Linked DNA regions of Homo sapiens: all the other regions are reported to be linked to region 6. Evidence: microRNA targets listed by miRTarBase, many of them from high-throughput screens and not tested one by one. Region 6 holds a microRNA gene; each other region holds the end of a gene's coding sequence. Distances are from middle to middle.

Region 1 (3,093 bases), not on the chromosome of region 6:
AGGGAGGGACGAATGGTGGGTCGAGCGTCGGGGCGGGACTGCGAGGAGACCCGGGGGGACGGGGAGGTTCCTGGGTTTTGTGGGTTTAAGTAATTCGCAGATTTATTAACATTCATTAAATATTAAAAATCATCGTTCTCCCTTAAGCATATCCTGAGTATAAGTGTAAAAATTTAGCAATCTCTTTTTACAATTTGGTTAAAATCTCTCAAATACTTTAAATTTACCTTATAAATGTAATCTCTTCATTTTCTTTTTAAGTACTTCAGGGTTTTTGTTTGTTTTGTTTTGTTTGAGACGGAGTCTCCGCTCTGTTGCCCAAGAGTGCAGTGGCACGATCTCGCTCATTGCAACCTCCAACTCCTGAGTTCAAGGGATTCTCCCACCTCAGCCTCCGGAGTAGCTGGGATTACTGGCGCCTGCCACCACGCCGGCTGATTTTGTATTTTTAGTAGAGATGGAGTTCCACCATGTTGGCCAGGCTGGTCTCCAACTCCTGACCTCAAGTGATCTACCTGTCTCGGCCTCCCAAAATGCTGGGATTACAGGCATGAGCCACCGCGCGCAGCCTCAAGTACTTCAGGGTTTAATATAACAAACTGTTTCCAAATACTGACTGCAGTTCTGCTAAATTAAACCGATTAATTAATGAGGCTGAAATATTCTCCACTGTCCAAGACTAGACATAAATATAGTCGGATTTCAACTCTAAATCAGCAGTCAGCAACTGCTCAATTGCACACTGCGTTACAAGAGTATTACTCTACCGGAATTTTTATTTTTGAGACGGAGTCTCGCTCTGTCGCCAGGCTGGAGTGCAGTGGCGTGATCTTGGCTCACTGCAACCTCCGCCTCCCGGGGTTCAAGCAGTTCTCCTGCCTTAGCCTCCTGAGTAGCTGGGACTACAGGTGCGCACCACCACGCCCGGCTACTTTTTTTGTATTTTTAGTAGAGATGGGGTTTCACCATGTTGGCCAGGCTAGTCTCGAACTCTGACCTCAGGTGATCTGCCCACCTCAGCCTCCCAAAGTGCTGGAATTACAGGCATGAGCCATGGCACCCAGCCTCTACTGGAATTTTTTAAACAAGCTACTGAAAATACCAAACATGCTCAAATTCTAAGTACAAAAATATTGCCATGGTTCTGATGTTCTTAAACCACCTAATACCCTAACGCCTAGCTGTAAATATTTTTGGGCATGAGAGAGTGGCCCCTCCGTGGAAGACAGAAGCCTCCCAGGTGGTTTCTGGGCTGAGTGGGGGCAGTCAGGGCCTCCTGCTAGGTCAATGCCCCCAAGCCCCCTCCTCACCAAGCCGGTCCCTCACACCCAGAGGGGGCAGCCTGGGTCTTGCTGCCTTTCTCCCTGGGATACAGAATTGATGAAACCCTAAATGTCAATGATAAAGATTTTTGTACTTTAAGGAAGCTGCATTCCCTCATGGTCCTAGGAGCACAAAACCACAATAAAACCCTGTGGAATCTGAATTTCTCTCCCAGGCGTCTGATGGGCAGGTGTCCCCAGAGAGAACAGTCTGGTGACACAGCAAATGCAGGTGGGGCTGCTGGCTACAGAGGGAGGCTGGGGCTCGGGAGGGTGGGGTCAGGGAACATCCTAGGAGGGGCAATTTGAACAGAGACCAGAGGGTGAGAAGAGAGGAGCCCTGCAGATCCAGGCTGGGGTGGAGGGGCCGGAGAGGGGCCTGGACTCCCAGCACATTCACCCCAATACCACGTGGTACCCCAGCACTGCCCACACCCCAACATCCCCCGGCACCCAGCACACTCACCCCAACACCCCCCAGCACCCAACACTACCCACACCCCAACACCCCCCAGCACCCCAGCACTGCCCCCACCCCAACACCCCCCAGCACCCAGCACACTCACCCCAGCACTGCCCACGCCCCACACACTCCCTGGCTCCCATGGGCTGGGCACCGTTTCTCTTTTCAGGCCTTATTATGTATTCACTTCCTCCAGAAAACCCCCGGCCTCAGGGCAGGGCAGGGCACCCCTCATCTCCCCAGTGCCCTGCGAACCTGTGAAGTGGGCGCCTGATGCAGCATCAGTTGATGAGCAAGAGGAGGGTTGTCAGCTATGCTGTCATCCCAGGCAGCAGCCACGAGAATGCAGGGGCACGAGAAGCAACTACAGGACCCAGAGTTCAGGGAACCCAGAGTGTGGGGCCATGTGTGGTTGTGGGGATTGGAGACACAGGGCCCTGTGCAACCTGGGCCCGGAGCAAGACAAAGACAACAGCAGCAGATGCTGGAGCCCCAAGGCAGGAAGGACAGGACAGCCTCAAGGCAGGAAAGATGGCTCTGGGAGCTGTGGCTGTAACTTGCTTTATGTGTCCAGCATCTCCGTGAGCATCTGGTGTCTCAGCTCAAGTCAACCCTGGCCAGACTCCAATAACAGACACAAGAACTGAGAAGGTGGCCCTGGTTACCAAAAACCAGAGGACCCTCATTAACATCCCCAAATTTCAAGCCAGACTGAAATCTGTCAGAAGAAATGAGGGTCCCAGCCTACCCCCGACACGGGTGGAACAGAGTAGGCTGGGCCCAGCTAGAGCCTGGGCCTGGGCTGCTGCACCTGCGGGGCCCACAGACTGAGGAGGCGGTCGGCCTCCCTCCATCCCGACAGCAGAGCCCCGTGCGTCGTGGAGTAAAACGTGCGATGTGTGGCTTCCCCCGCAAACAGGATCTGGAGCTGCAAAGAAGAGCCAGGGTTAGAATGGGGATGCAATTCAGACAGCAGGGTCTGGGCAAGGAAACACAGAAAATGGCTCACAAGCATCCACCAAGAAGCAGGAAAACAGCTCACACACCTCCACCAACGGACGAGAAAAGGGCTCACGTGTACCCACCAATAGCCAGGAAAACAGCTCACACACATCCACCAACGGGCAGGAAAACAGCTCACATGTATCCATCAACAGCCAGGAAAACGGCTCACACGCATCCACCAACGGGCGGGAAAACGGCTCACACGCATCCACCAACGGGCGGGAAAACGGCTCACACGCATCCACCAACGGGTGGGAAGACGGCTCACACGCATCCACCAATGGGTGGGAAAGGAAGCCACTG
Region 2 (3,093 bases), 83 Mb from region 6:
ATTAAGTCTAATGAAGAGGGATTGGTTCACAATCGGAAGTCCCATGATGCCTTCAGAGATCTGTGTGAACCTCTGCAATGATAACAAAATTTTGTTTTATACATGTGACACTGTTCTCAGGAGTGGTCATAGCTTTATCAAATTCTCAAGGGTCCACGGCCCAAAAAAGACAAGCTGATTTTTACAACTCAAGGTTAATTTATGAATGCTCACCTTCAAACGTTTCTTGATTCTGATTCTGCTATGAAAGAGTATAAAAAATAAAAAATGTTTCCCGAGTCTAAATTCAACCCAAAGCACGTATCAACACCCAATGGGCTTCATCCATCAAAATAAATTTGCCCACTGAAATGAGAAAAGCAAATGGGTTCAAGTCTGCCAAAGGTCATCGATGATCCTCATCATCTCTACTTTTCCACCTTCCCCTTGCTGCTCACCCCCAACTAGACTGTAAGTCCTGAGGCCAGAGACCTTTGCAACCTCTGCATGAAATTGCAAAAGGCAAAGCAGATGGAACTCGAAAGAAATTCACCACACCTATTTACGAAACCAGGTTTATTAAAATTTCTCTACAAGTCAGAAACGGCCATCTCACTGTTCACATATATACACGTATGTACAGGAAGAACCTAGTGTTTCTAGCTTTCCCGGCAGAAGGCCCTGCCAGCCCAGAGTCCTTAGTCGGATAATGTATCACAGATACAACAGTCGAGCAACCACGAGAGCGTTAGTGCGACAGAGGCCTCTGTCCTCCCTCTTCTCAAAGTCCCATGATTCTGTCAAGGTAATATTGCCAATAATCATTCACATTTCACGTGGTTTTAGACACGCAGGTTATTCAGACAGACACAGACAACAAAACAAGCCTCAAAGCCAGAACAAAACAAAACAAAACAAAATCGAACATAGGTATAAAAGGTAAAATATATGTACAAAGTACACAGTACGTGAGGTATACACGGCATTCTCACAATGCATGTTAGTAGTTTGCCTAGGCATAGCCCTTAAAGATGACTGCCTGTTTTTGTGCCATTTCTCAAAATACAGTATATTTTGTTTACCCGTTTAACCACCTGATTTCAGCACTGTCCAAGACAGTTACTGATATTTCATCTGAATTTGTTTTTTAATGAAAGTTGCAATTTCTCCATTAAGCTCCATCTTTTGTAGGGGAGTGAGTTTCCATCTCTGGACATATCTAACAGAGGCTGGATTCCCACCTACAAAAGAAGCTGAAGAGGGGATTTCTGCCTTGGGAGGTGGCAGAAAGAGGAAAGAGATTGGACCGGATGATTTTTAAAGTTCCTTCCAACTTTGAAGATTTGGGGTTTGCTGTTTCACTCCAGAAGCCGATTATACAGACGTATTCATAAACCACACATTTGAAATATTAACAACCCACCATGCAAAACTGCAGATGTACACACAATGCCAAAGGCGGACCATATCTGGGAGGGGTTAAAGTATAATTCTGGAAGTTAGTCTGAGAATCACAAGACTATCCAAAATTCACTCTCTTCAAAGCACAAAGATGTTTAATGTCTGCTCTTGGGAGAGGTGGGTGGGAGCCTCCTTATCTTTCTTCTCTTAGACAGAATGCTCCACCCTGAGATGGTCTTGGGGAAAAAGTAAAGGGTAGGTACTAACATATTTGGAAGGAACTTAAAAAGCTAATAGTTTCCAAGCACTCAAATTATTTTTTAAAATCTGGAGTCTCTCTGAGCTCAGAGTTCTGAAATCGTTGGGAGATGGAATCTTTTGTGATACTGTTCCACGTTCGGCTGGTAAGTGCTTTTATAGCTAAAGGGGGAAGTGTCAAGGTCAGGGAGAAGGCATTAGTGCAGATGAGGTCTTGGCAGGAAACAGAGAAGAGTCTCGGTTCATGGTTCCATCAGGCTCCTGAGCAACTTAAAACAGTCTGCTCCAAAAACGGAGCAGAGTCATTGGTAAATGTGAGTGTGAAGAAAGGGTGAGTGTTAAGCCAAAAAAGGAACTTTCCCATCAGAGAAGCTGCCGTAGCAGTCTAGCCACCAAAGATGAGTTCAAAGATGGCAGATTTATTGGCCCAATTTGTCACCCTGTGAAAAATACGGTTATTACTCAAAATATGTCATTGTGCGATTTGCTTTTTCTCCCATTCGAATGCTCAAGTTTATTACACACTTGACCACCGGGTGTAAGATGTCCATACTCTGCCCTCCACAAAAGATGCGGAACTCCCAAATCCAGCAGAGATAGTTGGTGAGGGTTCCTTAAGGGAAACAAATTTGCAGGGCAGCCAATCACAGCATATGCTGCTCAAATCAATAAAGTCACTCATCCCAACAGAGAAGAGGAGGCGCCATGCCGAGTTCAGCAGCTTTCATCCTGATGCAGTCATTATCTGGTTGGTACCACGCCAAAGGGCCTGTCCATCTTTAGAAATGGAAATGCCAGGTGTTAAGAATTATGAGGTTTCTGAGGTTTTGGGGATTAGCAGAAGAAGGAACTAATGTCACTGTCCTCCTGGTACTCTGGAACAATCTGGTCTGAAGTTCCTATTTCTGAGTCGATGTACCCGGGTTCCAAGACGGACTCAAACCAGGGGTGCAGTAGGATCTCGGGGGCAGTGAGTCTCTCGGAGGGCTCCCGTCTCAAGAGGCTGCGAATGAGGCACCTGGCTTTGGGGGAAATGTGCTCAGGAATGCAGAACTGTCCACGCCGAATTTTGGAGAAAAGGGCACTGGGGTCTGAGTCATGGAAGGGGTATCGTCCAACCAGAAGGGTGTAGAGCATCACCCCCAGGCTCCAAACGTCCGCAGCCTTTCCGGAGTAGGTCCCAGTGGTGTTGAGGATCTCAGGGCTCACGTAGGCTGGGCAGCCATGTTTGTCTGACAAAGCATCATCTTCCCCCTTCATTATGTGTGTGTCTTCTAGACTTTCTAGTCTAAGCTGGGTTCTGCAAGAGAGAGGAACCAAGCCATTATTTCCACACCAGCTGCTATGAAAAACAAAGCCTTCCCAATAACAGCGCCCACAGGCACTAACAGCAAAGGCTCCAGGAATGCTATTTACCCCTTCGTCCAGTAAGCAGTGCCCTGCAACTACCGAGGG
Region 3 (3,093 bases), not on the chromosome of region 6:
CTTTTTAACACAAATGAAATGACTTGCCATTTTAACAAATCCTCAATTCTAAAAGTGATCTCTCAGGGGGCTTTGAACTAAGGTCGGCAAGATTTGAAATGGGGCTTCAAAATTTTAAATAATAATTTTAAAATACTTCTGGAATAGCCCAAAAAGTAGAAGTCACTTCTATTAAGTTTTAAGTAGATATACACACTCACTCCAATTTTACTGTAGAAATGGACAGATTGTCTAAAGCCTGCTTTCTATTCCCCCAGAGCCTGATTGTTATTTATACTCCTTGGTTTTGGTTATTGCAGAACTAGGGCTCTGGTCAGAAATAACACCTTACATACCCGAATACTTTCCTGTGGAAGCTTTACATTGCATTTTCCATCCTGAAATTCTCACCTTAGACCTTACAGGCCCAGGAGAGGGTGTGAATATTGTTTTCAGTTTACAGCTAAAGCCCCTTACTAATTTGGGCTATACCTGAATCAAATCATCACATCATTTAGATTAATCCCAATAGGCTTATCCAAGCGGTTCCCACTAACCTCACAGAGAAACAAACAGTTAACATTGTATTTTCACACTAAGCTGCCTAAGGGCTTGGCTGCTAATGAGTTAGCTGATAGGTAGACAGAATAAGCGTGTCAATTCCAATCAGTACACGCCCTGCTCCTCTAGTTTCTGCTGAATTATGCAGTGGGTGGGAATGGTTGGCCACTCAAAACAGTCTTCCTATGGGGCTCTTCCACCATAAGTTGGATCAAAACTCCACAAATGTATTTCAAGGTGCCCTTTAAGTCTCTCAAATTTAGGGACTTTTAAGTGACAAGCCATGAGAAGTTAATCACAGGCTTGAAAATACCTGGAACCACAGAACAGCCCCCACGGAACAGGCTGAATATGGTTAAATAAGTTGGCTGGTACATAAAGCTTTTCAATGTACAGCCAGTCTTGTTGGATACAGTGTCTTCTTATATAATACAATGGAACTGTGCTAAACAGTTTCAAAGTTGAGAAGAATCCAAATGTATCACCTATAAAAAATTCATAATTTTAGTTTATTTTAGACTTTGGTACTGAAACACTGTCTACATTCTTGACACTTGAAAATGACATGGTCACTTCAGTGCCTCTGCATGTTGTGTAAAAAAAAAAAAAAAACTCAAAAAAGGAAAGCAGGACAAGGATGTGTCATTACAAGACACAGTATGCTGTACAAACAAAACCTAAATTATATATAAATACACCCCCACCCCAGAACCCTGTCTTCCCTCACTACCTGATCAAAGCAATGCCAAGGGTCCCTCCCTCCAGGGCCAATGTAGCTTTTAAAGTCCAGAACCCAGGACTTTAAGCATCCCTTGCCTTGCGGTGACGTTTACAGTACTGCAACCTCCTGTTGGAGTCACCTGTTTGATCAGTTCCGTAAGTGCAGGGTAACACCTACAGCTTAATTGGAAGCATTCACTCTACTGGCTGGATTCAAAGACCTGGAGTCCTGGGAGTTAACCTTTCAGATAAACTAACTGGATCATTTCCTAATCTGGATCCTATCTAATCCTACTATCTCCTCAGAGCCAACACAGTAGGAAGCATCTTCTACTCTGAAGCTTCCAAAGGCATTACTTAGGGATATTGGTGAGGGTCACATAAGAAAAGTTATACAATGAGCTAACAGCTTAAGTTGATATAAATTACTTCCAAGTAAGTTATTCAGGGCCGTTTGCTTCTGCTTTACACTGCATTCCACAGTCATTTTCATATTATTCTTTTAAAAGTTTATACTATAGTCACTTTAAAAATTGTCTAAGCAATCACCTCTTTGTGTTTTTGATTAATAACAACTTAATGAGCTATTATATAAATCAAGAGAGAAATAATTAGTCTTAAGGAAGCCAATAATGTGCTAATTCCCAGTAAGGAGAAAAAGCAATGTAAATAGAATTTTACATAACCAACAATAACTTGGAAAGCAGTTTTATCAAAATGGTTTTGCAAAGGTTTCCCAAAAGCACTTACAGCAGTTTATATCAAGAGATCCTAAGTTTAGGGGTATGGAGAATCTCAATTCTTTAAAGCAGAAATTCACCTGTTTCATAATTGTAATATGTAATTTTCTCCCCTTGGACCTAAGATATTTATACATTCAAAAGTTTACAACTTGCTGTTCTTGAGACATTGTTCATTCTTTAATACATACATTGAGTATAAATAAATAACTACAAGAAAGCTTCAACAATCTGAATTAACATTATGCTGTGCAAAACAAAAACAAAAACAAAAACAAAAAACAAAAAAAAAGTCAAACCTTGAACAACCTACATTCTATGTAAATACCCTGACTAAAATATTGGTTGTGCTACACAATTCCACTTTAGTGCAGAAATGCATTGATTTCACTGTACCGTTGTTGTTGGCTTTTTAAGTGTCTTTAGCACTTCTGTTTCTAAGCATTGCCTTGCTTTGAAAAGATGAATAATTTGCTACCAAATCACAAATCATCACAAATCCATTTTAGTTTGGTCTGAATAAAATCCAGCATAAATGTATTATTTTATTCTGGGTATAATGGCTCGGTGTCTTTGTCCCAACAGCTTTCTTCTTAAGGGCAAACCACCCTTAAGTGAAACTTGCCATTTGTTTTTGTTTTCTTTTTAAGTCTCCAGATCTTGCTAGGACACTTCTTCCAGACCAACAGTCAGATAGTTGTGGCACGTGATCCTATTTGAAATAGAGGTGGTTTAAATCAGCCAAGCTTGGTGATCTGGAGGTCTCCATTTATCTTTATGGTGTCAATTGCAGATAACGTTTGAATGCGATGGTAAAAATCAAAAAGTTGGTGTCCATCCACAAACACTCGGAAACGTGGGTGCTCACAAAGAATTTCCACCTGGAAGAAACAAAATAATAATCCACAATTTCAATGAACGCTACTGGGGAAAACAAACAATACTTCATTTTAGAGAAAGAAAGGCAGTATCTTCAGTGGTTCACAAACATCAGAATGCATTGAGACCTGCAGAGGGCTTGTTAGAACACAGATTGTTGGGCTCTACCTCCAAAATTTCTGATTCCTGTGTAGAATGTAAGTGTAAAAGCTTT
Region 4 (3,000 bases), not on the chromosome of region 6:
CTAATAAATTCAAAAAGTGAGTTTAAAGTGTTTAAAAATTAAGATGAATGATTTCAAATGAGGTATGTCAAAGACTGTGGTAATAATTTAGCTATACACTTCTCAATAATACCCCAGCTCCCTAAATGGCTTTGCTTTCACGTGTGTACTCAATATTTCTTTCTTCTTAAGATTCTAGGATGGTGCCTGATTTGTTCAGCGTCTTTCTTCTCTCTGCTCACCACATGTTATGCTCGCTGCCGATCTAAAGTTAGCTACCTTCAGCTGAGTTTTTGGAAGACATATGCACAAAAGGAGAAGGAGCAGTTGGAAAATACATTTCTGGACTATGCCAACAAGCTGAGCGAGAGGAACCTGAAATGTTTTTTTGAAAACAAGAGGCCAGATCCTTTTCCCATGCCTACGTTTGCTGCCTGGGAGGCTGCTTCAGAGCTGCATTCTTTCCACCAAAGCCAGCAACACTATAGCACCCTCCACAGAGTGGTGGACAATGGTCTGCAACTTAGCCCTGAGGATGATGAGACGACAATGGTCCTTGTGGGTACTGCCCACAATATGTAGCTCATCCACCATCAATGACTCATGGTGTTGAGTGGCATGCTCATTCTGTGATCCTCCTAACGTATCACCAGCAACCTGTGTGTCTCTGTATTTTCTTACATTTGGAGTATGTTTACAAGACAATAACACAAAGGAAACTGCTTTGAAGCTCTCAAGTGGAACATCAGGATGTGCTCAAATTGATGCTGAGGGGTGACAAAGGTGCTCTTGCATTGGTGGAGAGGGGCTCAGTAGGCCTAAATGTTGCTCCAAGATCTAAGATTTTATCATTCAACAGACAGACTCATGTGAGAGGGCTCATCAGTCTCTGTAAATATTGGTTGCAGAATTTAGGGGCAGAAGCAATGGCTTGTGAGTGAGCAAGTTACTCTTAACATAGGTTGCCCTACACAGTGGCTCCTGCAGTGTGATCAGCAGGAGTCTCTGTCCTACAAATCTACACTTTTAAGGATGTATGAAATTGTGGAATTCATTCCCTCAGGATCTGAAGATCTCAGTTCTCAAAAATCACAAGTTGCAAGAATATGATACCTAAAATTGAAAGTTTTTCACATGTTTTCACTGTATACTGAAAATACTCCCCTGGAAGCAGGGCTGCATCATAATTTTTGTGGGCTTTATGTACTTTTGCCTTTGCGAACCATTTCCTACATTCAAAATAGTAGTAACAAATATATATATATATATATATATATATATATATATATATATATATATATACACACACACAGAAATATATATTTATAACTGCATTGATAAAAGGTGAATATATTAGCATTTTCTTCAACCTAAAAGTTTATGTATTTTCTTCTGATTTTAAAAGAAATTAAAAACATTTTAGTGGGCCCTTACAAGTATTATGGTCCTTAGGCACAGTGCTTACTAGGCCGTGGGTATGTCTTAGTGCGTTTGGGCTACTATAACAAAATATCATAGATAGGTGGCTTATACAAAATAGAAATTTATTTCTCACAGTTCTGGAGGCTGGGAAGTCCGAGGTCAGGCTGCCAGCATGCTCAGGTTCTGGTGAGAGCAATTTTCCAGGTTGCAAACTGCTTGCTGACTTCTCAGTGTCCTTCCATGGTGGAAAGTGCAAATAAGCTCCCTTGAGCATTTTTATAAGGCACTAATCCCATTCCTGGAGGCTCCACCTTCATGACCCAATTACTTCTCAAGGCTCTGCTTCTTAGTACTATCAGCTTGGGGGTTAAGATTTCAACATATGAAATTGGGGGAGACACAAACATTCAGACTATAGTAGGGTAAATTGACCTTGGCTAAAGGTCTGGGGACACTGTCCAAAGCAGTACTGGCATAAAACTGCATTGCAGTCTTACATTTATCAGAAATAATGCAAATCTTGCATTCTACAATGTACTATATCCATGTTAGTATGTACATATATATGTGTATGTATATATGTACATAAATTCTCCTTAAATCTCTGAGAAGAATTGTGCTTTAAAAAAGAACTATGTTTTGTGCTGTGGCTCATACCTTACAGTGGTAGTCTATGTCTCTTAGTTTGAGAAAGCTGAATATTAACTTCTTATTAACATGAAACATGATGGCAAACTGAATCCTACAAGTATAGGACCCAGAACATATCTATGTTATTGTCATTTACAAGAAGAAATATGTATTTGGTCTTTCTTCCTATTCCTGGTGCAGAGCTCCTAAAACCTTTGGGACCTCCCAAGTGATGTGTCTGGTAGTACGCGAATGAGATGACTGATAGTTAGGGGCTTCTGAATGGCCTCAGAATAGGGTCTGGTTGCCACGGGAACCAACCATGTGTTTAGAGGGTTGGAACTTTCAGCCCCACTCCCAGACCTTGGGGAAGGAAGAGGGGCTGAAGGTTGAGTCGATCACAAATGGATAATGATTTAATCAATCATGCCTAAGAATAAAGCTTCCCATAAAAATCTAAAGGACAAGGTTCAGAGAGCTTCTGCATTGCTCAATACATGAGGAGTGGTGAGCCCAAAGGGGCCGTGGAAGCTCCGTGCCCCTTCCCCCAAACCTGTTCCTGTGCCTCCATCTGGCTGTTTCTGAGTTATATTATTTTATAATAGACTGATGATAGTAAATAAAGCCCTTTCCTGAGTTCTGTGAGCTACTCTAGCAAATGGTGAAATCTGAGAAGGAAATCATGGGAACCTCTGCTTTGTAGCCACGTCAGATAGAAGATGTGAGTAACTTTGGAACCTACTGCTTGTGACTGGTGTCTGAAGTTGGGGGAGATCTTATGGGACTGAGCTCTTAACCTGCTGGGGATCTGCACTTAATGCCGATTAATGCCAGAATTGAATTGTATGATATCCAGTTGGTATTGGAGAATTGGCCAGTGTGGGAGAAAACCCACACAGTTGGTGGCAAGGAGTGTTCAGTGTTGAGTGTGAATGTCAATAAAAAAAGGTTTGTTTTTTCTACGTACAA
Region 5 (3,093 bases), not on the chromosome of region 6:
GTAAGATATTCCATCTCTGGTCCCTGTGGGTCCATGGACCCCAGCACTGAAGCCTCTGGTTACCAACCCAGCACTGAAGCCTCTGGTTACCAACCAGAGGTGACACCTATTTAGCACCACACAGCCCAGCCCTGACAAATCACAATGGACTCTGACTGAGGGCTGCAGCAGGGCTGGGGGGCCCCATGCATGTGCCAGGAATGATCACTTTAGTTGCTGGATTGTGGAGTGAATCCAGGGTCCCCAGGGAGGAGCAGGGGCAGAAGGGGTAGGATACTCAGAGAATCTGAGCCATGGTTGTTTACCAACTTTCTTAGTTGTAAGAATTTCTTAGTATTTTCAATACTTATTTTAAATATTTGAATAGCTAGTATGGCTGCATCAGTACAGTCCAGCCCTGCTACCAACAGTGCCCATACAATCATATCAAATCCAATTTAAAACCATATATTTTATTGATGTTCTTCAAGGACAATACAGGGCCATGTGTACAAATGCTACTCAAGTCTCACATCTGGCAACCTCCCCACCGTCATCCCCCATTGACCAGTCTGCAAGCAGCCAACATCCTGTAGGTCTCCCTGTTGCCCTTCCCCAGGATGTCAGGCCTCACCGTGCTGAGCCTTCAGGAGGCTGGAAATAGCAGGGCTGGCTTCTAAGCTTGAGCTCTGGAGCCAGGAAAGAGTCAAGGCCAAAATTGCCCAGATCTTCCCCTCCTCCCTCTCCCTCCCATTGCTTAAGTATGGCCAGAATTGTGGGTGAAAATGCCCCCAGCGACTCCTCCATTGAGGCAGCCTAGGCTTCCCCTCTTCAGCCATCTCTATCACATTCTTTATTTCCAAATGACCTGCCCCACCAACCACCAAGATGGCAGAGTGACCATTTTGCAGGGAGTGTGAATCAGTGCACAGACGGCAGTGACAAGGTGCCCCTGATGGCATGAATCTTGTCATCCTGTTCATCACTGCATTGCCAGTGCCTGGAAGAGGCTGGGAACGTAGTTGGCACTCAATAAATATACGTAGGATGGATGAGTGAAGGAATGAGTATGGGAGGGAGAAATGTGAGCAGGTGGAGCCAATACTACATTAGCTCTCTAGGGGGTGTGAAGGCAGAACCACAGTAAAGTCCTCCCAATCTCTGCTCAAGAACCCAGGCTGTTGCGCAGCTATCAGCGGGTCACTGCAGTTGGCGGTTGGACATTGCAGGGCATGGATTCAGCACTGCTGCCTGCATGGATGTCATATTGGCTTTGGGACCCAGTCAGGAGGGGGCACTTGTGTTGTCCCTACTCCCTTATATGCCCCAGAGGTCTGGTCCTCTAGGTTTCAGAAAACACACAGCAGTGCCTCCACCGGAGTCAGTCAGATGCGCAGGGATGGTCTGGGAATTGCACCCTTATATTCTGGTCATCTCCACTCCTCAGCCTTAGCTCACCACTGCCCCCCATGCCCTGCCACTGACAATGACACTGCTCCATCTCCCTGTCCTCAAATGTCAGTCCCCTCAACCACCCAGGTAGCCCTGTCTCTGCAGAGACTCTCTCTTCAGTGGCTGGGTTGGGTCCTGATTTTCAGACCCCTCCCATGCCCACACTCCCCTCTAGGAAAGCAAATATCTCACAGGCATCTCTGCAGATCTTGCCTCTGGGTCCAGCAATCACAACCAGGACATCAGAACCTTGGGGTTGGAAGGAATGTGTAAGCTCACCTAGAATGACCCTGTACAGAAATCCCTTCCACAGCATGCCTGGCAGACGACTGCCTAGACTCTGCTGGAATACCTCCAGTGATGGGGCACTCACTACCTTCACAGGCAGCCATTCAAACATTGAAGAGTTTCAGCTGCTGGAATGCCCTTTGTATAGGGCATAAATGAACCCAATTGTCCCTCTCACTTCTCCCTTTCCCCTAGGCATTATTCCTATATGTTTCTAACAACACTTCTCACCACCACCCATCTCTCTCTCTCTCTCTCTCACACACACACACACACACACACACACACTTCCATATGGTTATACAGTCGAATATCCCCTTCATTTATCAGTAATTATCTTTCCCTGTCCCTTCTTCCTTGCCTTCCCATCATCTGGCAAAGACCTGGGGGCTGGAGATCAAGTAGAAAGGCTGGAAGAGTTCCAGGGACAGGAAGCATCCAGCCAGGTCCTGGACTGGGCTGGGCCGGCCAGATGGGGCAGGGTGGACAGGGAATAACATTTGGAAAAAGCAGGCCATTGATTGCTGTCTCCCAGAAAAAGGGTCTTGAACCTGGTGGGGGGTGGTGAGGGAGCAGCAAGCTACTAAGTTCTTTTTCCTACAGAGGGGATGCGGACACACACCCACTCTTTCCCAACTCCCCTAGCAGTTGGCAGAGCTGACTTGGCTGCCTCTTACACGTGGTGATTTTAAACATTTGCCAGCCTCTAGGTCCCAGGGAGTCTCATACCAGCAGCAAGAATCCACTCCCCTCTCCCAACATGGGGGCTGAGAGGAAGGGCTCTAGCAGACAGCAGTGATGAATGAGACACGGTGGAGAATGGATGAGCCAGGAAGAGGGGGAAAGCAGGGATCCCAAGGGGACGGAAAGAAAGCAGAGGCAGCCTAACAGCTAGCAGCCACCTGGCTGGCTCGTGAGGAGCCTAGAAATGCCTGGGGGGACATTTTTCCTCCTTGTCATGATCCACCAGCTCACGCTGTTCTCATGGGTGGAAGGTGAGGGGAAGATGCTAGGACCTTACCAGCACAAGGTTGTAGTGAGTCATGGGTGGAGACAAGGCTGCCATGGTTTTATGCTCAGGAGGAGTCAAGACAGAGACAGAGAGATAAATGACGGGAGTGTCTACTACTTATCCTGCTGCTTGGAGCTCTCACTTCCGACATTGAACATGGGGACCAGCAGGCCCAGCAGCCACCTCTTTCCGAAGACCTCTTGTAAGTTCTTGCGCCAGGGCCGGGCCCTCACTGCCACCCCCTTCCGCACCTGGTGGCGGGTCTGCCCGCGGAGGATCAACAGCAGCTGGTGGCAGCAGAAGCCGGCGCAGGCCAGGCCGATGGCGAACCAGAGGTAGAGCATGAGGATGACGAACATTTC
Region 6 (3,089 bases):
TTTAGTAGAGACGGGGTTTCACCATGTTGGCCAGGATCTCTTGACATCGTGATCCGCTCGCCTCGGCCTCCCAAAGTGCTGGGATTACAGGCGCGAGACACCGCGCCTGGCCACGTATGTGTAATTTCTAAAGGTTTCTCTGCCCTTGGTGTAGGGAAGAATGTTTGAAAAAAAGACCATTGAGAATACTTCAGGTAAGTTTTTTTTTTTTTACACTTACAAAATGCTAAATGATCAGGGGTCAACTATCAAGTGGTACTCTGTAAGGCAACCTTAAAAACTCACTGCTGACCCAGGCTCGGTGGCTCACACTTTTGATCCCAGCACTTTTGGGAGGCTAAGGCGGGCGGATCACTTGAGCCCAGGAATTTGAGACCAGCCTGGGCAACATAGCGAGACCCCCTCTCTACAAAAAATAAGAAAATTAGCTGAGCATCGTGGCCTGCACCTGTGGTTCCAGCTACTTGGGAGGCTGAGGTAGGAGGATCACTTGAGCCCAGGAGGCAGAGGTTGCAGTGAACCAAGATTGCGCCACTGCACTCCAGAACGAGACCCTTTCTCAAAAACCACCATCAACAACAACAAAAAACCCCACTCAATGCTGTCTTGGCAGTTTTCAGTGCTCAATGAGAAAACCTACTCTTAATGGAAAAAAAGTGGGGGAAAGGGGTTCCAGGAACTACAAAGCAAAGTGTGTCTTGGGAAGTTAGCTTTGTTGCACTCCAAATAAAAATTTGGCATTGGGTGGTAGTTATGCATACTCTACGCATCGACAATTCTCTAAGGACTCCAAAGTGCATGTCCTGGAAATTCCAACATATTTGCACTACGTTCCAGGTACACTAGAATGTTTATAGCCATGTTCTGAGTGGCCTCAGTCTGAACAAAATGCCCAACCAGAGTAGAATGGATTCACTGTTCTATTCACACTGGAATACTAGGCAACAATTAAAATTACCTATACATACACAGTACACCAATTTAATACTGATTGAAAACCACAAAACAACACACTGTGATCCACCCGCAAAAGTTCAAAAACAGGCAAAGGAAAACGACATCGCATGCACACATAGATGGTAAAGCTGTAAGGAAATGATCACACTAGTCAGGCTAGGAGACAATCAGGCTCCGAAAGGAGCACAGGGCATGGGTGAGAAACTCCTGGGGTGCCGGTAATGCCCTTTTCGTTTTTATCTGGGTGTTTTATTAATTCTTCTTTAAACGTGTATGTCGTATGCACTTTTCTGCGTATGCTATATCTGTTAAAAATTTATCGGCAGCCCAGCAGACAGATTCGTGCCTCTAAAGAGGTGGAAGCTCCAGAACGATCCGCCTCGCCATTAAGCGAAGGCAACTCCGAACGCTGAGAAACGCAGGCCCGGGGTCGGCCGGTGTCCTTACGGATTGGCGAGCGGGCGCACACCCCTCCTGCATTAAGGAGAGTTCTCAGGGTCACGCTCCGAGCGACCCTAGAGGGAGCGGCGGTGTCCTCGCCGCCGCCAAACCCACCTAGAGCCGCTCTCCGCGTCGGCCCCTCCACCGTCGCCGGCGACTCCGGACAGCCGCGGGGCGATTCTGGGGCTTCCAGACGAGGGAGGGGCCCGGGGGGAAGGAGGCGGCGACTCCCGCCGCCCCGCAGAGCCTCGGCGGCCAGAGCTACCCCAAGAAGGCCAGACCCCGCCGTCCGCGGCTCCGCGGGCCCCGATAGGGTGGGCGTGGCCGCCGCGCGCCGGACGTACCTCTCCACCGCGAAGGAACTACCTCGCCAGTTCCCGGCGACAGAGGACAGATTATTTCCAGGACCGCTCCCGCCACCCCTCCCGGGCAACCCACTAGACGTCCCCTTTCTAATTTGGAGTGCGGGTGCGGGCGCACGCGCACTGCCGAGCTTCCGCGAGGGCGCGACCGGACGGCGGAGGAGGACCCGTCGCCGCAGCCTCCAGGGCGGAGCGCGTGCTCGCCTCGACACGCAGCGAACTGGTGGCGGGGGCGCGCCCGGCGGCAGCGGCGGCGGCGGCGGCGGCGGCGGCGGCGCGGCGGCGCGGGTCGGCCGGGGCGCGAGCGTGCGCAGTGGCTCCTCGGCCTCGGCTCCAGCCAGGGCGGCGGCGCTGGGGAGGAGCGGTGTGGGCGGCCGGGGGCGGGGACGCGGGGCGGCGGGCGTGTCCGAAGTCGCGCGCGGCTGGCGCGCGGTCCCGAGTGAAAGGAGAAGGAGGGGCGCTGGGGGTGACGGTGCGGAGCCGCTGCCAGCGCTGGGCGAGAGTCGGCGGCCGGATCCGAGGAGCAGGCGGGCCTGAGGCCGAGTCAGCTGCGCGGGCCCCCGGATCCCCCGACAGAGCGGCGGCGGTGTCTGGCCAGGCGGTAGGCGCTGCCTGGCCGCGGCGGGGAAGATGTTCAGCGTAGAGTCGCTGGAGCGGGCGGAGCTGTGCGAGAGCCTCCTCACTTGGGTACGTGGGGGCCGCGGGCCGGCGGGAAGACCCCCTCCCCCCGCCACCTACCGGGACCCTCCACGCGCGGCCCGTGGGGCGAGCGCTGCGGGCGACGGTGCCGTCACATCCGGGGCCTGGGGCGGGCGGGGCGAGGAGGCTCGGCCCAGGGTCCGAGAGAGACTTGCCGGGCCTGAGGCGTCGCTGTTCCGGGCGGACCCCGGCCGGGGCTGGGCTGGGAACGCGGCGGGCGACTCTGGGATCCGTGCGGCTGCTCGCAGCTGGGGCTGCGCTGCGCTCTGGGGGTGGCCGAGCCTGACTGCCCCGCGTCCAGGACCCGCCGCCGCTCCTCGCCTTTGTTGCCGCGTTCGCGGAGGACGGGCCCGGCTCCGGCCCGGGAACTGAAAGGACCTGTGAGGGAGCGTGGGGAGAATGCGGGAGGCGCCCGGGGACCCCGTTTCGGATGCAAGGCACCGCTGGCGGTGGGAGTGCGCGAGGGGCGGACGCCTGTCAGAGGCGTCGGGCAGACGTTTAAAGGAGTCTGGAGGTGTCTGGGCGTCAACAATGGAACTCGAAGGCCTTGGGGGACAGAGTCGTGGGATTCTGATTTTGAATTCTTAAACGGTTTTAGATTCCTCATACTTTGAAGTAAATACATGTTCA
Region 7 (3,076 bases), not on the chromosome of region 6:
ATTTAATTCTTGCAAAAATCCTGAGGTATGATCACTTTACCCATTGTACAGATAGGGAAACTGAGGCTAAGAGGTTCGCCGACTCCTATAACACCACACAGTTCAGATATCCCTGGCCCCAACATAGAGATACACACACACAGTCACTCACATGGAGCAGTCTATCACTGGAGTCATAACTCCCCAGCCTTGGCTCTTCCCCATGGGAATGCAAAAGGGGTCGGTGAGGAGCAACAGTTACGAATCAACTGTGTTACAGGTGCTCTCTGTATATTCACAACCACCTGGCGAGGTAGTGACTGTTATCCCCTTTAGCACTGAGGAAACTGAGGCTCTAACAGCTGGCAAAGGCAGAGCTGGGACAAGACCAGGGCTCTGACCTCCTCCACCAATACCTCTGAATCCTCCCCAGCATCTACTGTGGTGCCCTTTGCTGGTCTTTCCTCCTAGGGTCTGAGGTTCCCCACTGGAAATGGGATCAGAATGTTCCCCTGCCTGGTTCCCAACAGGGTCAGAAGAGAGAACTTGGAAGAGTTGGATTTTGAGTGCTTTGTGTGTTGTGTGTATGTTGAGGGGAGAGAAGTTGGAATGCTCCCACACCTCCTGCAGCATCCCCACCCTCCCCTTCACCCCCACTGCAGCAGTGCCATGCTCTGGAAGCAAGAATCTGATCACACCCTCCTCCTTCTCTCATCACATTCGGGTGCCCTCTGTCTTCTCAATAACCCAGGTCTGATCTCCCTGGCCGCAACCAGCTGTGTGGCCTTGGTCAGGTCCATCCCTCCCCTTGGAATCTGTACTTCCCTAGGCTCTGTCATCTATTGGGGACGATGCCCAGGTCAGGCCTATACTCAGAGCCTTCTTCTCTTCATCTCCAGAACAGCCGTCTGCCTGTCTTCCTGGCTCGCTCCCTGCAGGAATGGTCTGGGGCAACCCCAGCAACACGCCCACCTGTGGCCAGGATGAATAGGAATCCAGTTCAGGCTTGGCTTCCATGGCAATCAAGGCCCACCAGGCCCCAGCAACCTTCCCTACCCCCCATTCCTTTTTGCTGCCCCCCTCCACACCAGGCATGTTCCCTGCCACACCATGCTGTTCCCCTCACCTGGGCTGCCCTCCCAACTCCTCTCTGCCTCTGGAGATGCTCTGCCATTCAAGACTTGGCTCAGGCTCCAGGTCCTCCCTGGGCCTTCTAGAGCCCCTGGTTCTCACTCCTCTGAACACTTCCAGCCTGGCTAATAGCCCACTGCATCCTGGCCTGGGGTACAGGTGGCCAGCACAGGTGTGGGGGCCAGCTTCCAACACAAGCACGGGTAGGTCCCTCTGCAGACCATGGGCTGCAAGAGGCCCGGCCTTGCCCACTGCAGGGGCCCTGCGCAGGGCTGGGCACGAAGCAGGTGGGTGTCCACCAATCTAGTATCCAAAACCCTGCTTGGTTCACCCCCACCTCTGTTGAAGGAAAGCAACACTGTGATGGAGAGGAGCAGCTGTGGATTCAAATCCTGGCTTGGCCACTTTCTAGTTGTGTGACTTGGTGCATCTGCCCTCATCTCCTCAGAGACAAAAATGGCAACACCTCCCTTCTTGGGTTACTATGAGGATTAAATAACAAAACCTCCAAGAAGCAGAGCCCGGTGTCTGGAGAGTGCTCAATGGACGTAGTTATTATTATCATCATCAGCACAGTGCGGGGCACATGGTGGGCATTCAGGGATGATGGCCCTTGTGTCACAGCCGACACTCTTGACCAGTGAGTCCTCTCTCCTCCCTTTGTTGACTCCTGACCGTCCACAAATGAGGTTCAGAATCCTCCATCCAGCATCTTCCCTGGTCACATGGTCCCAACCTTTTGCTCCACCCCCTTCTCTGTTCCCCCCGCAGTCCATGCTCCAGCCATCCTGACTCTGTCCCTGGATTTCTGGCTTACTGACACCTGAGCCTGTGCACAGGCCCTCCCTTCTGTATAGAGCACGCTTCCCATCTTGTGGACTTGCTTCCCATCTTGTGGACTCGGAGGGTTCCGAGCAGCCGTTGAGGCTGAGCTCCTATGACACCTCCTCCGTGAAGCCTCCCTCACTTTTCCATTACCAGTGAGGCCTGCCACAGCCTGATTTGTACTCTGATCCTGGCACGCATGAAGCCGTGTTGCCATTTGTTAACAGTCTGTCCTCCACTAGACTGTGAACTCCACCAGGGGGGGAACCAGGTCTGATTGCCTCTGTGTCCCCAGATACCACTTAGCACAGAGTCGAGCCCATAGTGGCTATCAGCAAGTGCTAGGCCCAGCCTGCCACCCACCCACCACTCACTTGGGGGCTGGAGGCATTGCACGCATGCGGGGCATGTGGGACTTGTGGGGGCAGCTGAGCAGCGAGGTTTATAGAGGAACCCAGGGCGGCAGCAGGAAGGATGAAGGATGAGTGTCTGAAACTGGGTTGGCAGGCTCAGGGCATAGCCAGCCTAAGCTGGGGGTCAAAGGCCCCTGGCCCCTTCACTCCCCCAGGGGCACACAGTGTCGGCGGCACGATGTGGGATGCCCCAGGAAGGGCAAGGCCATGGGGCTGGGCTTTCCTCCATCGACCCAGGACAGAGCTGGTGCTGAAGGCCCCATCAGCATGACTGGGGTGGAGATCTTGGGGACCTCCTTGGGGGGCCACAGTTGGGGGGAAGGGCACAGCCCATCCAACATGTCCATCTGGTGTGGCTGTGCCAGCAGGGAGTGTCCCACATGCAGAGCTCCCTCTGGGCTGCAGGAGGTGGGGACCTGGGTGGGCAGGTGGGCACAGCAGCAGGGGGCCCCAGGGAGCCTAATCCAGCGGGCCCTGGAAAATGAGGCGGACGCAGCCATGCTCGCCGGTAAGCCAGGCCCCGCAAAAGGGGCAGGCGGCATGGAAAGCATGGGTGCCGTGGGGCAGTGGTGTCTGGGCCCAGTAGCGGGCAGTCTTCTCAGAGCAGACGTGGCCGCAAGGTGCAAAGGCATGGCTAGGCGGCCCAGGGTCCAGGCAGAGGCCGGCCTCCTGGCCAAGCCATAGAGGCACATAAGGCCCCACAAGGCGGCAGAGAGGACATTCGCGCT

Evidence for each region. The annotated mature microRNA hsa-miR-4469 reads GCUCCCUCUAGGGUCGCUCGGA and lies in region 6 at 1,462-1,483, opposite strand. An mRNA with a match to its seed (bases 2 to 7 or 8) in the 3' UTR can be bound and repressed. Matches are read on the target gene's strand: a 7mer-m8 pairs with bases 2 to 8, a 7mer-A1 pairs with bases 2 to 7 and ends in A, and an 8mer does both.
Region 1: the mRNA of PAOX is a reported target of hsa-miR-4469. The part of its 3' UTR that is shown has no 7-base or 8-base seed match.
Region 2: miRTarBase lists TRIB1 as a target of hsa-miR-4469. Seed matches in the 3' UTR shown: 7mer-m8 at 751-757.
Region 3: the mRNA of LGALSL is a reported target of hsa-miR-4469. Seed matches in the 3' UTR shown: 7mer-m8 at 1,296-1,302.
Region 4: miRTarBase lists CALHM5 as a target of hsa-miR-4469. The part of its 3' UTR that is shown has no 7-base or 8-base seed match.
Region 5: the mRNA of ZDHHC22 is a reported target of hsa-miR-4469. Seed matches in the 3' UTR shown: 7mer-A1 at 1,899-1,905, 7mer-A1 at 1,480-1,486, 8mer at 722-729, 7mer-m8 at 717-723 and 7mer-A1 at 577-583.
Region 7: miRTarBase lists PELI3 as a target of hsa-miR-4469. Seed matches in the 3' UTR shown: 7mer-m8 at 2,737-2,743 and 7mer-m8 at 2,069-2,075.

The regions. Positions count from the first base shown.
Region 1 is chr10:133,390,932-133,394,024 of GRCh38, reverse strand. PAOX (polyamine oxidase) reads right to left here. Exons shown (of 7, transcript NM_152911.4): 7 at 2,331-2,713. The coding sequence ends at 2,570. Among named protein-coding and RNA genes, the nearest start is that of MTG1, 1.7 kb to the left of the region's middle. RefSeq lists a silencer at 1-76.
Region 2 is chr8:125,435,851-125,438,943 of GRCh38, reverse strand. It overlaps TRIB1 (tribbles pseudokinase 1), which reads right to left. Exons shown (of 3, transcript NM_025195.4): 3 at 541-2,938. The coding sequence ends at 2,473. Among named protein-coding and RNA genes, the nearest start is that of TRIB1, 7.0 kb to the right of the region's middle.
Region 3 is chr2:64,458,073-64,461,165 of GRCh38, reverse strand. It overlaps LGALSL (galectin like), which reads right to left. Exons shown (of 5, transcript NM_014181.3): 5 at 1-2,881. The coding sequence ends at 2,738. Among named protein-coding and RNA genes, the nearest start is that of LGALSL-DT, 4.7 kb to the right of the region's middle.
Region 4 is chr6:116,515,429-116,518,428 of GRCh38, forward strand. It overlaps CALHM5 (calcium homeostasis modulator family member 5), which reads left to right. Exons shown (of 2, transcript NM_153711.5): 2 at 172-3,000. The coding sequence ends at 561. All of the region lies in intron 3 of TRAPPC3L (trafficking protein particle complex subunit 3L), which reads right to left. Among named protein-coding and RNA genes, the nearest start is that of CALHM5, 5.3 kb to the left of the region's middle.
Region 5 is chr14:77,130,839-77,133,931 of GRCh38, forward strand. ZDHHC22 (zDHHC palmitoyltransferase 22) reads right to left here. Exons shown (of 3, transcript NM_174976.2): 3 at 432-3,093. The coding sequence ends at 2,845. Among named protein-coding and RNA genes, the nearest start is that of ZDHHC22, 9.4 kb to the right of the region's middle. RefSeq lists an enhancer at 2,950-3,093.
Region 6 is chr8:42,894,742-42,897,830 of GRCh38, forward strand. MIR4469 (microRNA 4469) reads right to left here and starts at 1,534; the gene lies at 1,456-1,534. RNF170 (ring finger protein 170) reads right to left here and starts at 1,864. Exons shown (of 7, transcript NM_030954.4): 1 at 1,743-1,864. It overlaps HOOK3 (hook microtubule tethering protein 3), which reads left to right and starts at 2,237. Exons shown (of 22, transcript NM_032410.4): 1 at 2,237-2,447. The coding sequence starts at 2,391. RefSeq lists an enhancer at 981-1,542 and silencers at 1,449-1,660, 1,456-1,815, 1,996-2,785, 2,796-2,855.
Region 7 is chr11:66,475,899-66,478,974 of GRCh38, reverse strand. It overlaps PELI3 (pellino E3 ubiquitin protein ligase family member 3), which reads right to left. Exons shown (of 8, transcript NM_145065.3): 8 at 1,638-3,076. The coding sequence ends at 2,808. All of the region lies in intron 1 of DPP3-DT (DPP3 divergent transcript), which reads left to right. Among named protein-coding and RNA genes, the nearest start is that of DPP3-DT, 2.8 kb to the left of the region's middle. RefSeq lists enhancers at 654-1,247, 1,885-2,705.